Linked DNA regions of Homo sapiens: region 2 is reported to be linked to region 1. Evidence: microRNA targets listed by miRTarBase, many of them from high-throughput screens and not tested one by one. Region 1 holds a microRNA gene; the other region holds the end of a gene's coding sequence.

The links. The annotated mature microRNA hsa-miR-520h reads ACAAAGUGCUUCCCUUUAGAGU and lies in region 1 at 2,145-2,166, opposite strand. An mRNA with a match to its seed (bases 2 to 7 or 8) in the 3' UTR can be bound and repressed. Matches are read on the target gene's strand: a 7mer-m8 pairs with bases 2 to 8, a 7mer-A1 pairs with bases 2 to 7 and ends in A, and an 8mer does both.
Region 2: miRTarBase lists LBR as a target of hsa-miR-520h. Seed matches in the 3' UTR shown: 7mer-m8 at 2,372-2,378.

Annotation. Positions count from the first base shown.
Region 1 is chr19:53,740,636-53,744,731 of GRCh38, reverse strand. It overlaps MIR520H (microRNA 520h), which reads right to left and starts at 2,220; the gene lies at 2,133-2,220. It overlaps MIR517C (microRNA 517c), which reads right to left and starts at 3,419; the gene lies at 3,325-3,419. LOC124904765 (a long non-coding RNA gene) reads right to left here. Exons shown (of 6, transcript XR_007067334.1): 2 at 2,465-2,587.
Region 2 is chr1:225,399,895-225,403,966 of GRCh38, reverse strand. It overlaps LBR (lamin B receptor), which reads left to right. Exons shown (of 14, transcript NM_002296.4): 14 at 504-2,465. The coding sequence ends at 664. Among named protein-coding and RNA genes, the nearest start is that of LBR, 26 kb to the left of the region's middle.

The sequences.
Region 1 (4,096 bases):
AATTCCTGTCTTGGCCTCCCGAAATGCTGGGATTACAGATGTGCACTACCACACCCCGCCTTTTTTTTTTTTTTTTTTTTTTTGAGACGGAGTCTTGCTCTGTCACCCAGGCTGGAGTGCAGTGGTGCGATCTCAGCTAACTGCAAGCTCCGCCTCCCGGGCTCAGGCCATTCTCCTGCCTCAGCCTTCTGAGTAGCTAGGAGTACAGGCGCACACCATCACGTCTGGCTAATTTTTTTTTTTTTTTTGTATTTTTACTAGAGACAGGGTTTCACCGTGTTAGCCAGGATGGTCTCAGTCTCCTGACCTTGTGATCCACCCACCTCGGCCTCCCAAAGTGCTGGGATTACAGGCGTGAGCCACCGCGCCCGGCCCACACCCAGCCTATTTTTTACTTTTTTGAGACTGAGTCTCACTCTGTTGCCCAGGCTGGAGTGCAGTGGCTCAATCTCAGCTCACTGAAAGCTCAGCCTCCTGGCTTCAAGTGATTCTCCTGCCTCAGCCTCCTGAGTAGCTGGGATTGCAGGGGTGCACCACCACCCCGTCTGGCTAATATCTATATTTTTAGTTCAGACGAGGTTTCATCATGTTGGCGAGGCTGGTCTCAAACAACTGACCTCAGGTGATCCTCCTATCTCAGCCTCCCAAAGTGCTGGAATTACAGGCGGGAGCCACCGTACCCAGACTAGTCCCATCATTAAAATTAGGGAAAAAACAAAGATGCCCACACCTGAACAGCAAATCATTTGTTGTTCAAGGACATCTCAGATACATTGTTTGTCTAAAATACAAGTTTAACTGAGGGCCCGGTGTGAACCAAATAATGGTTCTTACATTCTTCTTGTCTGTGCATGGGTTAATATTCACATGTAGTCCCATCTAGCAAGGACTGCGGGGGGCAGAGGCAGGAGGATCTAAGCCCACTTTAGCCAGGGTGGCATAGTGAGACCCCCGTCTCATGCATTTATTTCCTGGTCACGCACCCAAGATTTCAGCTTCATTTCCCCAATAAACACTGAAGCCCCATGCACTCCACCTCCGTGCTCTTGCTCATCCCATCTGCAGGGACACTGAGGTCCCTTCAACTCCACCTGACCCCACGTGAGGTTCTATACCAGTGCCAGAAAAATTTCGATAAAGTAAGAGGTGTTGATGGCCACGCACCATGGCTCATGCCTTTGGGAGGCCGAGGCGAGCAGCTCACGTGAGTTCAGAGGTTTGAGACCAGCCTGGTCAACATGGTGAAACCCCGTCTTTACTTGAAAAAAAAAAAAAAAAAAAAAAAATTCAGGCCGGGCATGTTGGCTCACACCTGTAATCCCAGCACTTTGGGAGACTGAGGCAGGTGAATCATTTGAGGTCAGGAGTTCGAGACCAGCCTGACCAACATGGGGAAGCCCCATATCTACTAAAAATACAAAATTAGCCAGGTGTGGTGGCACATGCCTGTAATCCTAGCTACTCAGGAGGCTGAGGCAGGAGAATCACTTGAACCCAGGAGGCTGAGGTTGTATGGGCCGAGATCATGTCATTGCCCTCCAGCCTGGGCAACAAGAGTGAAACTCCATCTCTCTCTCTCTCTTTCTCTCTAACACACATACACACACATACGCACACATTCGAAAAGCAGTCAGGCGTGGTGGTAAGCGCCTGTAATTCCAGCTACTCAGGAGGCTGAGGCAGGAGAATTGCTTGAACCTGAGAGACAGAGGTTGGAGTCAGCCGGGATCGTGCCATGGCCCTCCAGACTTGGCAACAGCAAGACTCCACCTAAAAAATAAATAAATGAATGAATAAAAAAGAAAAATACAAATATTAGCTGGGCATGATGTCAGGTGCCTGTAATCCCAGGAAGCTGAGGCAGGAGAATCACTTGAACCCAGGAGGTGGAGGGTGCAGTGAGCTGAGATTGCACCACTGCACTCCAGCCTGAGTCACAGAGCAAGACTCTGTCCCAAAAAGGACCATTTGAGCCCAAGAGACCTAGGTTGGAAGTGCCTCTGTACTCCAGCCTGGGCCACAGAGACCCTGTCTTAGAAAACAAAAAAAACCCAGAACCCCAACATCATCCAAGTCTGATGATAAGCATGCAAATATATTACCAACATCAGCATCAACTTCAACACTGCTTTTCCCAAACAGTAACTCTAAAGGGAAGCACTTTGTTTTTTCTCAGACAACAAACAGAAAGTGCTTCCTCTAGAGGGTCACAGCATGGGATCTTCTTGCTCCAGCACTCTGGGTTTCTTGTTGGAATTTTCCTTGACCAGGTTAAAATACACACAAAATAAAGATGCATTTATTGGCCCTGTTTGCATATTTTCTGGAATCCAGAACATAAACCCCTAAAAGGACCATCTCCAGTTCCTTGCTTCAAAGGCTCAGCAGGTTAGCCTTGTTCACCAAGGGGCAACCCTCCTGAGTTTTGTCCCCAAAGAGAAAAAGCAAAGCCTACTACACATACCTTATATTTAACCAAGAGATTAGGGCAGAATTTCCAGAGAACAGCAATGGATTTTGAGCCAAGTGTTCAGCTGAGTTCCAGGACAGGGGCACACAGTCCCGATGGAAGCATCCAAAATGGAATCTACAATGTTGAAGAATATACATTGTCTCACACACAAACATCCTCCAAGATAGACCACAGTCTAGGCTGACTCTACAGGACCATTTGAGATTAGGGGTGATGGCTCACAGCTGTAATCCCAGTACTTTGGGAGGCCAAGGCTGGTGGATCACCTGAGGTCAGGAGTTTGAGACCAGCCTGCCCAACATGGTGAAACCCCATCTCTACTGAAAACACAAAAATTAGCTGGGTGGGGTGGTAGGCACCTGTAATTCCAGCTATCTGGGAGGCTGAGGCAGGAGAATCACTTGAACCCGGGAGGCCGAGGTTGCGGTGAGCCGAGATCGCGCTATTGCCCTCCAGCCTGGGCAACAAGAGCGAAACTCCGCCTCAAAAAAAAAAAACAAAAAAACAATAATAATTAGCAAGACCTGATGGCAGGCAACTGAATTCCCAATGATTCGGCAGGCTGAGGTGGTAGAAACACTGGAACCTGAGAGGTGGAGTTTCCGGTCAACAGAGATTCTGCTACTGCACTCCCAGTGAAACCAGAGTGGGTCTCAAAAAATCAAAAAATAAAAAGAGGACCACTTGAGCCCAAGAGATCTCGGTTGGAGGTGCCACCCACTCTAGTCTGGGCAACAGAGACACTGTCTTGGAAAAAAAAAACAAAACAAACAGAACCCCAACATCATGCACGTCTGATGATAAGCACGCTCTGCAAATGTGTTACCAAGATCAGCAGCATCTTCAACGTTGATTTTCTCAAACAGTAACACTCTAAAAGGATGCACGATCTTTTCTTAGACAACAGACAGTGCTTCCATCTAGAGGGTCACTGCCTGAGATCTTCTTGCTCCAGTACTCTGGGTTATTTTTTATGTATTTATGTATTTATTTATTTATGTATTTATTTTTTGAGATGGAGTCGCCCAGGCTGCAGTGCAATGGTGTGATTTTAGCTCACTGCAATCTCCTTCTCACGGGTTCAAGAGATTCTCCTGCTGCCGCCTCCCACGTAGCTGAGACTACAGGTGTGTACCACCACGCCTAGCTATATTTTGCATTTTTAGTAGAGAGGAGGTTTTGTCTTGATGGCGGGGCTGCTCTTGAACTCTGACCTGAGGTGATCCACCCGTCTCGACCTCCCAAAGTGCTGGGATTACAAGCGTGTGCCACCGCACCCGGCCTATTTTTTATTTTTTTGAGATTGAGTCTCACTGTTGCCTAGGCTGGAGTTCAGTGGTGCGATCTCAGCTCACTGAGAGCTCAGCTTCCCGGCTTCCTGTGATTCTCCTGCCTCAGCCTCCTGAGTAGCTGGGATTACAGGCGTGTACCACCACCACACTGGGCTAAGTTTTGTATTTTTAGTAGAGATGGGGATTCACCATGTTGGCCAGGCTGGTCTCAAACAACTGACCTCAGGTGATCCTCCTGTCTTGGCCTCCCAAAATGATGGAATCACAGGTGTGAGCCGTGGTACCCAGCCTTGTCCTATACTTAAAATTAGGAACAAAAAAAGATGCCCAC
Region 2 (4,072 bases), not on the chromosome of region 1:
GGGGTGTCAGGGGGAGCTGGAGGTACTGGTGGAGCCAGGGGAGCTGGGGGAACTGGGGGAGCAGGGGGATCTTGGGAAGCTGGGGGAGCTGGGGGAACTGGGGGAGCAGGGGGATCCAGGGGAGCTGGTGGAGGTGGAGGAGCTGGCCCGTGCCTGCTGCCTGTTTGGTGGCCCAGCCTGTGGTGGAAGACAGCAGTTTTTCTTCTTTGCTGGGGGAAGAAGGGCGAGAAATGAAGAGATGTGTATTAACTATGAGGACAGATGTTTTGATTGTGATGGATTGTTAGAATGGATTCATCAGTCTTTGAGTAGCTTCTAATTTAGATACGACCTTCTGCCACTTTCCAGTGGGATTTTACAGACTTGTTTAATTATTCTCATCATTATTAGAGAAAATGAAGTACCTTGTGGTTCCATTTTTAGAGAATTTGGGGGAAAGCAGGAAAAAATACATTGTAGTGATAATAAAAATATCTAATACTGTGTACTATTATTATCCACAGGTTTTAACCACATTCTGCCTTATTTCTACATAATTTATTTCACCATGTTGCTTGTCCACCGAGAAGCTCGTGACGAGTACCACTGTAAGAAGAAATACGGCGTGGCTTGGGAAAAGTACTGTCAGCGTGTGCCCTACCGTATATTTCCATACATCTACTAATGCTCTTCTGGCTTTTCTACAAAATACTCCTGCAATTCCAGCTGCCATTTGCAAAAACAAGGAAAAAAATCCGAAACTTTCTTTTGTTGCACTGACAGGGTCTGTACTTTTTTTTTTCTTTTTGAGTCAGGACTATGGAGCCGAGTAGTTGATCTTTTAATATAGCCGTGTTTACTTGTATTAACTTACAGTTAACATAGGAAAAATACAAGTAAGGATGTGAGAATTTGCATTTTAATGGGAAATTTTCAACCCTTAATCTGAAAACAGAAGACAGTCTTAATATAAATGTACTGTGAAGAATGCTATTGATGTTTATGGTTTCTGATTACTTTTCAAATTTTGATGTTTTTTTGCCAGTTGGCTTTTCTTAAATGAAAACACTGTTCCATTTAAAGTACATTTATGTTTTATTCAGTAAGAGAATAGAATTTTCATTTGTTTTTCTTTAAATCCTTTACTAATTATATAATTTGAAAGCAAAAAGAAGGGCCTATATTAAATGCTGAAAGTGAAAAGTGATGACATTATTAGCAGACACTGCTTAAAGGAGACCATTTGTAGCAGTTGGCTTAACCTCAACTTCTAAAACTACATTGAAAATGTAAATACATAGCTTAGTTTTTTGTAATATATGGTGACTTCAGATTTTTTTGTACAGTATTTTGAATGTGAGATGATTGTCAGGACTAACTGTCTTTTTAACAAAACATTTTCAGTATTTTAAATAAAATTTTGTAAAGTAATGTGAATTAAAAATTTTGGAACAATTAGAATTCATTCACTATTGTATAGAAGATGCTGTTAAAACATAGGAAGGGTATTTTTCTTGATCCAAAGTTTGTGAATTTGGCTTTGCTACCTCAATTGCAGGTGTTTGTTTGCCTTTATAAACTGTTGCAAATAGAAAAAAAATAGAATAAGTATATATTTTTGGAGTAACATCAATATTTAAACATTTTTACACAGATCGGTGTTTGAAAATTTGCCATTTCAGGCTAATATTTTTATATATTTTTGACTTTTTAAAAGTTCATCAGTGTTTTTGCTACTGTTAAGCTTATGCAGTTTATACTGTATTTTTTATGTATCCTTTATATTTACCAAACCTGACTCCCTGTAAAGGAGTGCTGTCTTAAAAACAACTGAAGGGGTTAAAGTCGTTTCTTTTAGTTTAATAGATGTGCATAAGGTAGCTTTAGCAATTAAATTCTAGTGAAGTTGATATAGTCTCATTTTTAATTGTCCTGTAATGGAACAGTAGCAAATTCACTAAACTTTTGTGTTCAGAGTTAAATTGTTCTCAGTACTTTCAATGTAGGGGAATGTAATAAACATAGTGTGTATGTTTGGGTTTTAATTACACATTTTATATATGAGCCATTTAGATATGCAGTGTTAATTCTATACTGCATTTGAAGTGTATGTAACTTAGCTTATGTTAATGCAGTCATGAAGTTGGTTTGCTCCAGCATCCGGTAGTCTTTAAACATTCTTTTAGTGAAATTGTCATTGTTTTATCAGTGCTAATGTGTGCAAGCAGTTTTTTTATTTTGCTTTTCTCCTGGCATCAGAAAGTGGTGGCGTTTTCTGTACTGGATTGCACCAAGGAAGCTTTTGGGGAGGAAGGAAGGACATTAAATTCTTTCCCTGGTAATGAAAAGAGCCCTTTATCAATACAGTGCTGCAATTTCTGGATATCAGCTACACTTTGTTTTTAAGTTTGTTTTTGACATGTTTATTTGGCAAATTTTATAATGAAGTTTTAAGTTGAAAATAAAATGTAGCAACATTTTGATCACTTTGGAGCCTTTTTTTTTTCCCTTTCTTGCTTGAAACTGAGATTTTTGGGACCAAGACAGGAGCCCTTAGATTCCCACCCCTGCCCAGCCTCCTGTTTTCCTAGGATCATCTGTTTGGGACCCCTGGCCAACTGCTGTTTAAAACTCTCAGAATGTTGGAACTCAAAGGGGTTAGTTGGGAATCCTAACTCCCAGAAAATGGTCATGTGTTTAGTATTTGCTGTTTGAGAAAATACAGAAATGCTAAAACTATTGTAGATCCAGTCATACTTTCAAATGCATTTGTATGAATCACAGAAGCATCTGTGCATTTGAAAGACAGTACGTGTGTGAGAGACACACGAGACACACACATGTACTGTGCCTGCTGACCGTGCTTTAGTGCTTGTTTGGATTTCCAGTTGACTCTAAGCCTGAATTGTGAGATGAGATCAGACAGCTTCACCTCTCAATTCTTCCTGCTGCGACGTTACATTGTGACATTACATTGCAAAATGTGGGTGTGTCAGAATATGCACCAATACCAAGTATACGATTTATATTTTGGTGTTTAGTTTTGCACTGTTTGGAGCAAATGATGAAATATAGGATTTTAACAAAAGATACAAGGTGGAGTGTTTCTAGGTGCAATTTACTTAAATATAGATGGTACAGTTTCCTAGACAATTAAATACATGTTTTGTTCATGGCTGTTAAAAGAGTCTAGTGCTGGGTACAAGTCCCACCTTTTCTACCCCCCTTACTATGGAGAGAGGGGACTGTTGGGATCTTCATTTGTGTACACGTGGGTTATGCTTTCTGCCCATGGACCATTGCCATGATAAAGAGACAGTGAGATGTGGCTTCAAATGCTAGCTGTGCTCCCTCTTAGCAATGTGTGTGTGGGCAATTAATCTCTTTGAGCACTGGTTTCCTCATGTATAAAATCTGGCTGATACGTCCACAGAGTATAGAGGGGCCTGAGGATGATATAGGAATTATTAGTGTTCAACATAGTGCTCAGTTATGTTAGCCATTATTAGTAGAATAACATTCTTCCTATAGGAACATTGAATTTACCAAATTCTCAGGATTTGGCTTTTAGTGGTCAGAGAGGTCTAGTGAAGTCAGAACCATATTGCACTTTTTTTTTTTTTTTTTTTAAAGAGATGGGGTCTTGCTTTGTTGCCCAGGCTGGGGTGCAGTGGCGTGATCATAGCTCAATGCAGCCTCAACCTCCTGGGCTCAAGCCATCCTCCTACCTCAGACTCTGAGTAGCTGGGACTAAAGGTGCCTCATCATGCCTGGCTAATTTTTTAAACAATTTTTTGTAAAGACAGGGTCTCATTATGTTGTCAAGGCTGGTCTTGAATTCCTGGCCTCAAGTGATCCTCTTGCCTTGGCCTCCCCAAGTGCCGGGATTACAGACATGAGCCACTGTACCCAGCCAGACCGCAATTTTTTTTCAAGACAGAGTCTTGCTCTGTCACCTAGGCTAGAGTGCAGTGGCACAGTCTCAGCTGACAGCAACCTCTGCCTCCCAGGCTCAAGTGATTCTCATGCCTCAGCCTCCTGAGCTGGGATTACAGACCTGCGCCACCACGCCCAGCCAATTTGTGTATTTTTA